2 linked regions of the Homo sapiens genome follow. The protein of the gene in region 2 purifies or fractionates together with the protein of the main gene of each other region. This does not show direct contact. Each region holds a gene or a part of one and is shown on either strand. Other genes may lie near its edges.

The links.
Region 1: the proteins of SH3PXD2B (region 2) and SCLY fractionate together in Homo sapiens (co-fractionation; one large-scale study listed by BioGRID). This does not show direct contact.

The regions. Positions count from the first base shown.
Region 1 is NC_000002.12:238,095,501-238,099,000, forward strand, and holds part of SCLY (selenocysteine lyase), read left to right. Parts: intron 1-1,300; coding exon 1,301-1,376; intron 1,377-2,701; coding exon 2,702-2,855; 3' UTR 2,856-3,500. UniProt on the Homo sapiens protein: Catalyzes the decomposition of L-selenocysteine to L-alanine and elemental selenium.
Region 2 is NC_000005.10:172,451,726-172,455,921, forward strand, and holds the start of SH3PXD2B (SH3 and PX domain-containing protein 2B), read right to left. Parts: upstream 2,801-4,196; 5' UTR 2,628-2,800; coding exon 2,553-2,627; intron 1-2,552. UniProt on the Homo sapiens protein: Adapter protein involved in invadopodia and podosome formation and extracellular matrix degradation. Binds matrix metalloproteinases (ADAMs), NADPH oxidases (NOXs) and phosphoinositides.

The sequences.
Region 1 (3,500 bases), on a different chromosome or scaffold from region 2:
CCAGCAGTCGTGTTTGGCCCATGAAGAAGAACCCGTGGGTAACCGTCATGATGGCTGCGTTCATGAGAACCTGGGCTGAAATGCGTTCTTGTGGGCAGTGAAGCCTGGGTCTCCTTGACCATCTCAAATTCCTCACCATGGAAAGGAGAGTTCTCTGTCAACGTTCCCCTTGTTCTGGGGTCAGACTTTGTGTTCAGTGACAACCTGTGTTACTTTAAATGAGACAGAGGTTCTCATTTTATTTATTTATTTTTTGATTCAGGGTCTCACTCTGTCGTCACCCAGGCTGGAGTGCTGTGGCGCAATCACAGCCCACTGTAGCCTTGACCTTCTGGGTTCAAGTGATCCTCCTGCCTCAGCCTCCCTAGTAGCTGGGACTACAGGCATGCACCACCACACCTGGATAACTTTTTTTTTTTTTTTTGAGATGGAGTTTCACTCTTATTGCCCAGGCTTGAGTACAGTGGTATGATCTCGGCTCACCACAACCTCCACCTCCTGGGTTCAAGCGATTCTCCTGCCTCAGCGTCCAGAGTAGCTGGGATTACAGGTGCCTGCCACCACGCTGGGCTAATTTTTGTATTTTAAGTAGACACGGGGTGTTGCCATGTTGGCAAGGCTGGTCTCGAACTCCTGACCTCAGGCGATCCACCCACCTTGGCCCCCCAAAGTGCTGGGATTACAGGCATGAGCCACTATGCCCGGCCTTGGCTAATTTTTAAAAAATATTTTGTAGAGATAGGGTTTCCCTGTGTTGCCCAGGCTGGTCTCAAACTCCTGGCTCAAGCAGTCCTTCTACCTTGGCCTCCCAAAGTGCTGGGATTACAGGTGTAAGCCACTGCACCTGGCTGAAATTCTCAGGTTAATTACATCAGCAGTCATTAATGGCTGTGCTTGTGAAAGAAGAGGGAAATGCCTTCTGGCTTAATAGAACTCCCACGTGTCTCTACCATCCAGAACACAGGTGGAGACGTGATATTGCCGGGGCTGCCAGCTTGTAAGGAAGGAGCGGGTCAGGACTCCAGGTGTCTTAGCAGGCAGTTGATTACAAATGCGATTTTCAAGGCCAGCTTTGTGAGGCAGAATAGTGTCTGCGTTTGTGCAGCCAAGGGAGAAAGGAAGCGTTTTCTTCGGCTCCTGCTGTGAGATCTCTCCCCAGCTGCCAGAATGGCCAGTGCTGGAATTCCACCAGGTGGCACAGAGGGAGGGAAGCAGCCTGCGCCCAGCAGGACCCCGGGAAGGGACAGAAGGGCAACCTGGCTGGAGCCCCATCTCAGGGGCATGTGCTCTGTCTCCGCAGGCCACGTGGTGCTTGCGCAGTGCCGAGTGCTGATGGCCAGTGTGGGGGCCGCGTGCCACTCGGACCACGGGGACCAGTAAGTGCTCTTCACAAACCCAGTCCAGGGCATAGGGGTCCTCCGGGCACTGGGTGTGGTGGGCAGGCGGCAGGATCCGGCCACTGGGCCGCACTCTGGCTGGTGAAGGACAGCCCTGTCTGGGCCCTAGGAGGGGCAGAGGGAGGGCTTCCTGGAAGAAGTGACTTCCAAGCTGCCATCTGAAGGACTAGGACTTGTGCGGGAGAAGAGGGCTTCTCGTGCTCAGTTCTGAAGGCGGAGGGAGGGCAGGGCCTGGAGGGCCAGCGTGGCCGGGGCTGGGGAGGGCTGGGGCGGGCTGGGGTGGGCTGGGGTGGGGATGGCCTGAGTGTCAGTGCTTACTTAAACCTCATGGAAGTGGGAGCCCTGAGGGCCATGGTGTGAGCAGACTCAGGTGTCAGATCAGCCATCTGCAAGATGCAGCAGAGATTCTCAGATAGCAGGGCCCGGGTGAGCGGGTGGGCTGCCTGGCGGAGACTGTGGGGTAGAGGGCGTGGGGTGCCCGAGCAGCGGCCTGCTGGCAGCAGGGGAGAAGTGGTTCTGGGTCTGGTCTGCTGAAAACGTGAGGCCCCTGTGGGAGGTCGGAGTGGACGCAGGAGGAACACTCAGGGTTCTGGGGAGAGAGCGGAACTGTAGCCAGCAGCACGTGGCCATCAAGGTCAGGGCAGAGGGATTGTGCAGGAGCACCTGGAGCGAGACAGTGGTGGGCCTGGCTCCAGGGAAAAGGAGGGGCAGGATGGGGCCCTTTGTTGGGGGGACAGTGCCCTGCTGCAGGAGGGGCAGGGGAGGAAAGGGACCCGGGTGTGATGAGGTCAGGCCCCTTGACAGAGCCCACATCTCGAGCCTCCAACAGCCTTGCTTCAGGATGTCCCCACGCAGTCATCTGTTCATGGCTAGATACTGACTGGGTCCCTAGTGTCTGCAAAGCCCCATGCTAGGTGCCATGAAGTTACCAAGTGGCTCAGGTGGGCCGCATGGGTAAGGCACTGTCTGTGTCGGCATCCGTGTTCTCCAGGACCTCAGACCCCTCAAGGACAGGAGAGCCCCTGGCCCCAGAGCTCAGTGCGAGAGGGAGGCAGTGTCACCTGGGAGTGCCAAGTGCAAGAGAACTCTGCAGGGAGAACGGGGGCGACTTTGAGCCACACCTTGATGTGGGTGATCTTAGGGGTGTGCTTGGTCTGGGAGTTTAGCAGGAGGTGGATGCCAGGCGAGGCAGGCGCACATCCGGGTGGGCAGAGCCCCACTAGGGGAGTGGTCCAGAGCAGGGGGGGCTGTGTCTCTTCCATGTGCCCTCAGCAGCAGCTGCAGCTCGGTCTCGCCCTCCCCAGGCCGTCCCCAGTGCTGCTGAGCTACGGTGTCCCCTTCGACGTGGCCAGGAACGCGCTCCGGCTCAGCGTGGGCCGCAGCACCACCAGGGCCGAGGTGGACCTCGTCGTGCAGGACCTGAAGCAGGCCGTGGCGCAGCTGGAGGACCAGGCCTAGCACTGGGGCCGCCTTCCCCACCCCGCTTCTGGGAAGCCCGTGGCAGGGCACAGGGTTGTCCCTCCAGTTCCCTCCTGAGGGCTGTGCCAGGATGACTGTCTCATGCCCCCTCTGCATTTTGTCCTGGAGTGCCAGCGAGTGTGCACCCCCAGTTTCCTTCCCTGGACCCCTGCAGAGCTCACAGGGCCCAGGACACCAACGCCGCATAGGACTGCCCACATGGGACCGCCCACATAGGACCGCCCACATAGGACCGCCCACATGGGACCGCCCACATGGGACCGCCCACATGGGACCGCCCACATAGAACCGTCCTCCAGTGGTGAAGCGGAAACACTTAGCTTTATCCACCCTCCCCACTGGGAACTGGGCACGCCTGTTGTGAGTGCCCTTTCCTGGAAGGTGTTTTTATCTGGAAGATAGAATCCAAGTATTTATAACTCATTGTCAGCCAAATGCTATCATGAACGTAGGAAACTTGATTTTTTTGTTTTGATCATGGCCTCTACATGCACCTTTCCAGAGTGGTCTCTTCTCAGGCCCTTTTTAGTCCCTTTCCAAAGCTGCCCCCACCACCCTGCTCCTCTGGCCTCAGTGCACAGTGGCCCCCAGCCTCGGCCAGGCCTGCTCTGCTCAGCGCCCACC
Region 2 (4,196 bases):
CCTGCCAATAGCTGCCTTCATGCCCGCTCTTTCCAGATTGTGTGAGGGGTTGGGGTGGAGCTTGGGAACAGCAGCGGTCGCCCACCACAGGGATCTGTTTCCATTGGGTTTGGCCCCCCTGCCATCAAGGCAGTAAATGTTCTCTGTTCCTGTGGATGACTCAGGCTTCAGTTCAGCCCATTGCCCCTCCTCATCTGATGAACCCAGAAGCCTGGGCTAGAAGGGAGAGGGCCTCTTGAATCACATGAGTGACTAAAGCCACATGCAGAAAAACAAGTTCTTGATGAATCCCCCTACCATGTGACTTTGGCATGTTCCCAATCAGTGACAAGATACCTCAGGACAGGCAGGCAGGGAGCTATGCCTTTAGGGCATTTAGGAATGCCCTAAGGCAGCCTGTCATGCGGCTGCTACCTCTAGGAAATGGACACCACCATCCCCATTACACAGATGAAAAAACTGAGGCTGAGGTGACACAGCTACAACCTGGGAGGCCAAGATCTGAATCCCAATCTATGTTTTAACATAGAAACTTGTCTCAGGGGGCCCCCAAAAAGTGGCTGAAAGCTTCAAAAGACGGTTCTCAAAGCGCAAAACCTTCAAAAAACTGGCAAGGATGGAGCTGACACAGCAGAGAATGAAAAGCTTCCAGGTTTTCACTAATGATAAGAGAGATTTCCCAGTTTTTCAGAGGACTTTGCTCAGAGAAACTATAGGGGTACCGGATGTGGGAAGTGGTGTGGTCCTTTTGGGGTCCAGCGGGCCTGGATCTACATCCCTGCTTGGCTCTTGACTGTGACCTTAGGCGTGGGACCTCACTTTGCTGAGCCCTGGTTTCCTCATCTGTCAAATGGGCTTAAGGCCCTCTGCCTGATATGGGCGTGATAGGAGAGGCCAGAAGAGGGCGCGTGGACGATGATGGCCGGGCCTCGGTGGCAGTATCTATTCTCGTTTTTGCCAGCTCACAGACCTGGTGGGAGGTGGCATGGAGAATTCCAGACTTCCTCCAGTTGCCATGTTGGTGAAAACTGTCTTCATGCCAAAGAGGCAAACTCACTTACACGCTAACAGGCTCAAACAAGAAACTAAGATTTGGCAGCATTTGAAAACAGTTAACAAAAAATAAAAAAAGGAAGGAAAAAAAAAAGACAATTTAGCTCAGCTCTGGAATCAAGGGAAACTTCACTCTATATAAAGATGCCACAGGTCCAGGAAATAGCTTCCCACCGCCTGGCTAAGGGCTGAATAACTGGCTGCCCAGCCAATAACAATACAGACTCACACAGCACACCCTTTCTTGTGGAGAGCGCGGAGTGGGTTCCCGGCTATCTCCTTTCAGAATTTCACAGGCTATTCACGGAAGGCATGCAGATCTACTTTGTAAGAATTAGTTCTTAAAAAAAAAAGATCTGAAGACGACTTCCAGGGAGGCCAAGGAGCTTAATTTAGCCAGCCAACGCCCTTTTCTATTCATTGTTCTATACTTCTTTGTTAGGATTTTTTCCCTCCCTCTTACTCTTTTTCCCTTCCTGGTTAACTTCTCTGCAGCCAGGCTCCGCCACTGCCCACTTCTCACCGCCAGAGACACTATAGCCCCCTTCCCTGCTGTAATGAGGCCCTCCCCAAGGCCTCATGTGGGCCCATCACCCCACATCCCCTTTATCTCCACCTAGAACCTGCGAGGTGGTCCCAGGGCCTCCTGAATCTGCAGACGTGTCCCCTAGGTTGCTGCGGAAGCCACTTTCCACCTGCAGGTCACCGTCAGCCCCAGGCACCCCTGCTGGAGGGAGGGAAGCCCGAATGCAGCTCTATGTTCCAGGACCTGCAACCTCTGAGCCTCAGCCTTCCTATCTGCAAAACGACGCTACTGTCCCATTTTCTCAAGTCCTTGCCAGCTCCAAACAAGATTCCCATGTTCCAGAGGGAGATGCCAGGAGAAAACTTTCGTACATTTTAAAACAGAAGTTACTGGAGAGAGGGGGCAGGGGATGTTTTTAACCCTTTAAAGGCGTAGCCACTCAAATGATCCATTCCCAGAGATCTCCTCCATCGCCCAGGCCGGCTCTTGCCAAAGAACGGAGTCAAATTCGGCGAACCCTAGAGGGGCTACCTGTGGCTGGGGACTGCGGGTCTGCGCGCCTCTGGACAAGGAGGGGCAAGGCGGGCGGCCTGAGAACAGGCACTTCTGTCTCTCCCGCTTTCTGTCTCAGACCCCTCACCGGCTGGAGCCAGACTTTTCCACAGATGAGCAGGACGGGAGTTGGGGGGACACGGAGAAGACAGAAAGGGGTAGAGGAGCCGCAGGGAGGCGAGTAGGGGGGCGAGGCGGGAGGAAGGGATGGAGGGGGAGAACGAGGCAAAAGCGGGGAGGGGAGGGGAGGGAGGGAGGAGGAGTCGGGAGGGACCCGGGCAGCGCCGCCGCAGAGCCGAGGGGAGAGCAGGGGAGGAGGGGACGGGAAGCGCTGGAGGCAGAAGTTTTCCAAGCCGGGGGCCCTCGGTCGCCCCCGACGGGGCGCGGGCTCAAGGGGGCGTGGGGGCCGCGCCGCACTCACATAATGCTTGTTGGGCACCCGCCGCTTCTGCACGTCTAGCACCTTCACCTCCACGATGCTGCGCCGCGGCGGCATGGCCGCTCCTCCGCCCGCAGCGGGCCGAGCGCGGGTGCGGGTGGCGCGGGGTGCAGGGAGCGCTGGGGGCGCGCCGCCGCGGGCAGGGAACCTGGAGCTGAGCGCAATCGCAGCCGGGGCCGAGCACGAGCCGCCGCCGCCACCGCCGCCGCCCTTCGCTCGGCGCGCACTCCAGCCGGGCCCAGCCGCCGCCGCCCGCCCCCGGCCCGCCCCCCGCACCGCCCCCCGCACCGCCCCCCGCACCGCCCCCCGCGCCGCCGGCCCGCCCCCCTTAAAGGGCCCGGCCCCGACCCCCGCCCACCGCGCGCGAACCCCGCCGGCCACGTCCGGCCCCCGCCCGGCCTTTGTCCCGGTGCTGAGCCGCCGCGCCGGGGGAGGGGACTGGACTGACCCCGTCGCCCGTTCACTGATTGACGTATCGATTCATTCCAGCACTCTCGCTCCGGCAGCCGCCATCCACCGCCAGTTTGGAGAGCCGGACACCCGGGTTCGAATCCCGGCTTTGCCGCTTTTCCACTCTGTGCCCTCGGCAAGTTGCTTAACCTCTCTGGGTTGGGTCTCTTCGTCTATAATATGAGCCTAGTAGTACAAGCACCATGTTTGTCTTTTTGTGTCTGGCTTATTTCACTCGGCATAATGTCCTCAAGGCTCATCCATGTTGTAGCACGTGTCAGTAGTACCGCCTGCCTGCCGGTGCTGCGCCCGGGATTAAGTGCATGTGAAGCCATTCCGCAGTGCAGTCCATGGTATGAGTGCTGGCGTTCCTAAAGCCACCCCAAGCCCTGGTGATTCAGGAGGAGCAAGAGACCCGTGACCAGGTTCCCCCAGCCTCAGTCTGGGACATGGGGAGTGAGGGAGAGAAAAACTGCAACAAATGCGCATACGTGCAATGTAATTGCCATGGAAGCAACAAAAGGGGATAAAAGGGTGGTGACTATGTGTGAGGGGCAGCTGGGTGCTTGTTAGCAAGGCCATCGATTTCCAGTTGCGGAGCACTTAACTGCTCGCTGGGCCCCGTGGCCCCTGCTTTTCACAAATGCTGTCTTTGCATCCTCAGGCAGACTCTAGGAGGAAAAGGTGTTTTTACAGAGGACGGCCTCCAGACATTTGGACATTTCCAATGAGGCCTGAGGACCCTCTGACTTGGGAACTGTACTTCAGAAGAATGTGCCTTACAGGAATTACATCAGTGAAGGTCCAGAGTCAGGGAGCCGGTGGATGGAGCCCGTCACTGCCTGGCTCTAGGTGGATCTCACACGTTGAAGCTGCCGTGGCTGGGGCAGCTCCTCGTTTCTTCATCTAGTGCCTCCTAGCACTGGCTGGGCACTGAGTCACTTTCAGGAGATGTTGGCTGAATGAATGGATAAATGAATATATAATGCATGGATGGGAGGTTTAGGCTCCTGGCCAGTGTTTTCACAGCCAGTAAGTGGGGGCTCTTTTCAACAAACCGTACGACTCTTCTCCATGCCACGACAGAGCTACTTCCCACCCCGGTCCAGGATCAGCCTTTGGAAAAGGGTGGGCTTATCCAGGGTAGGACGGCTCTCAGCCTCGGCCAGGCCACGT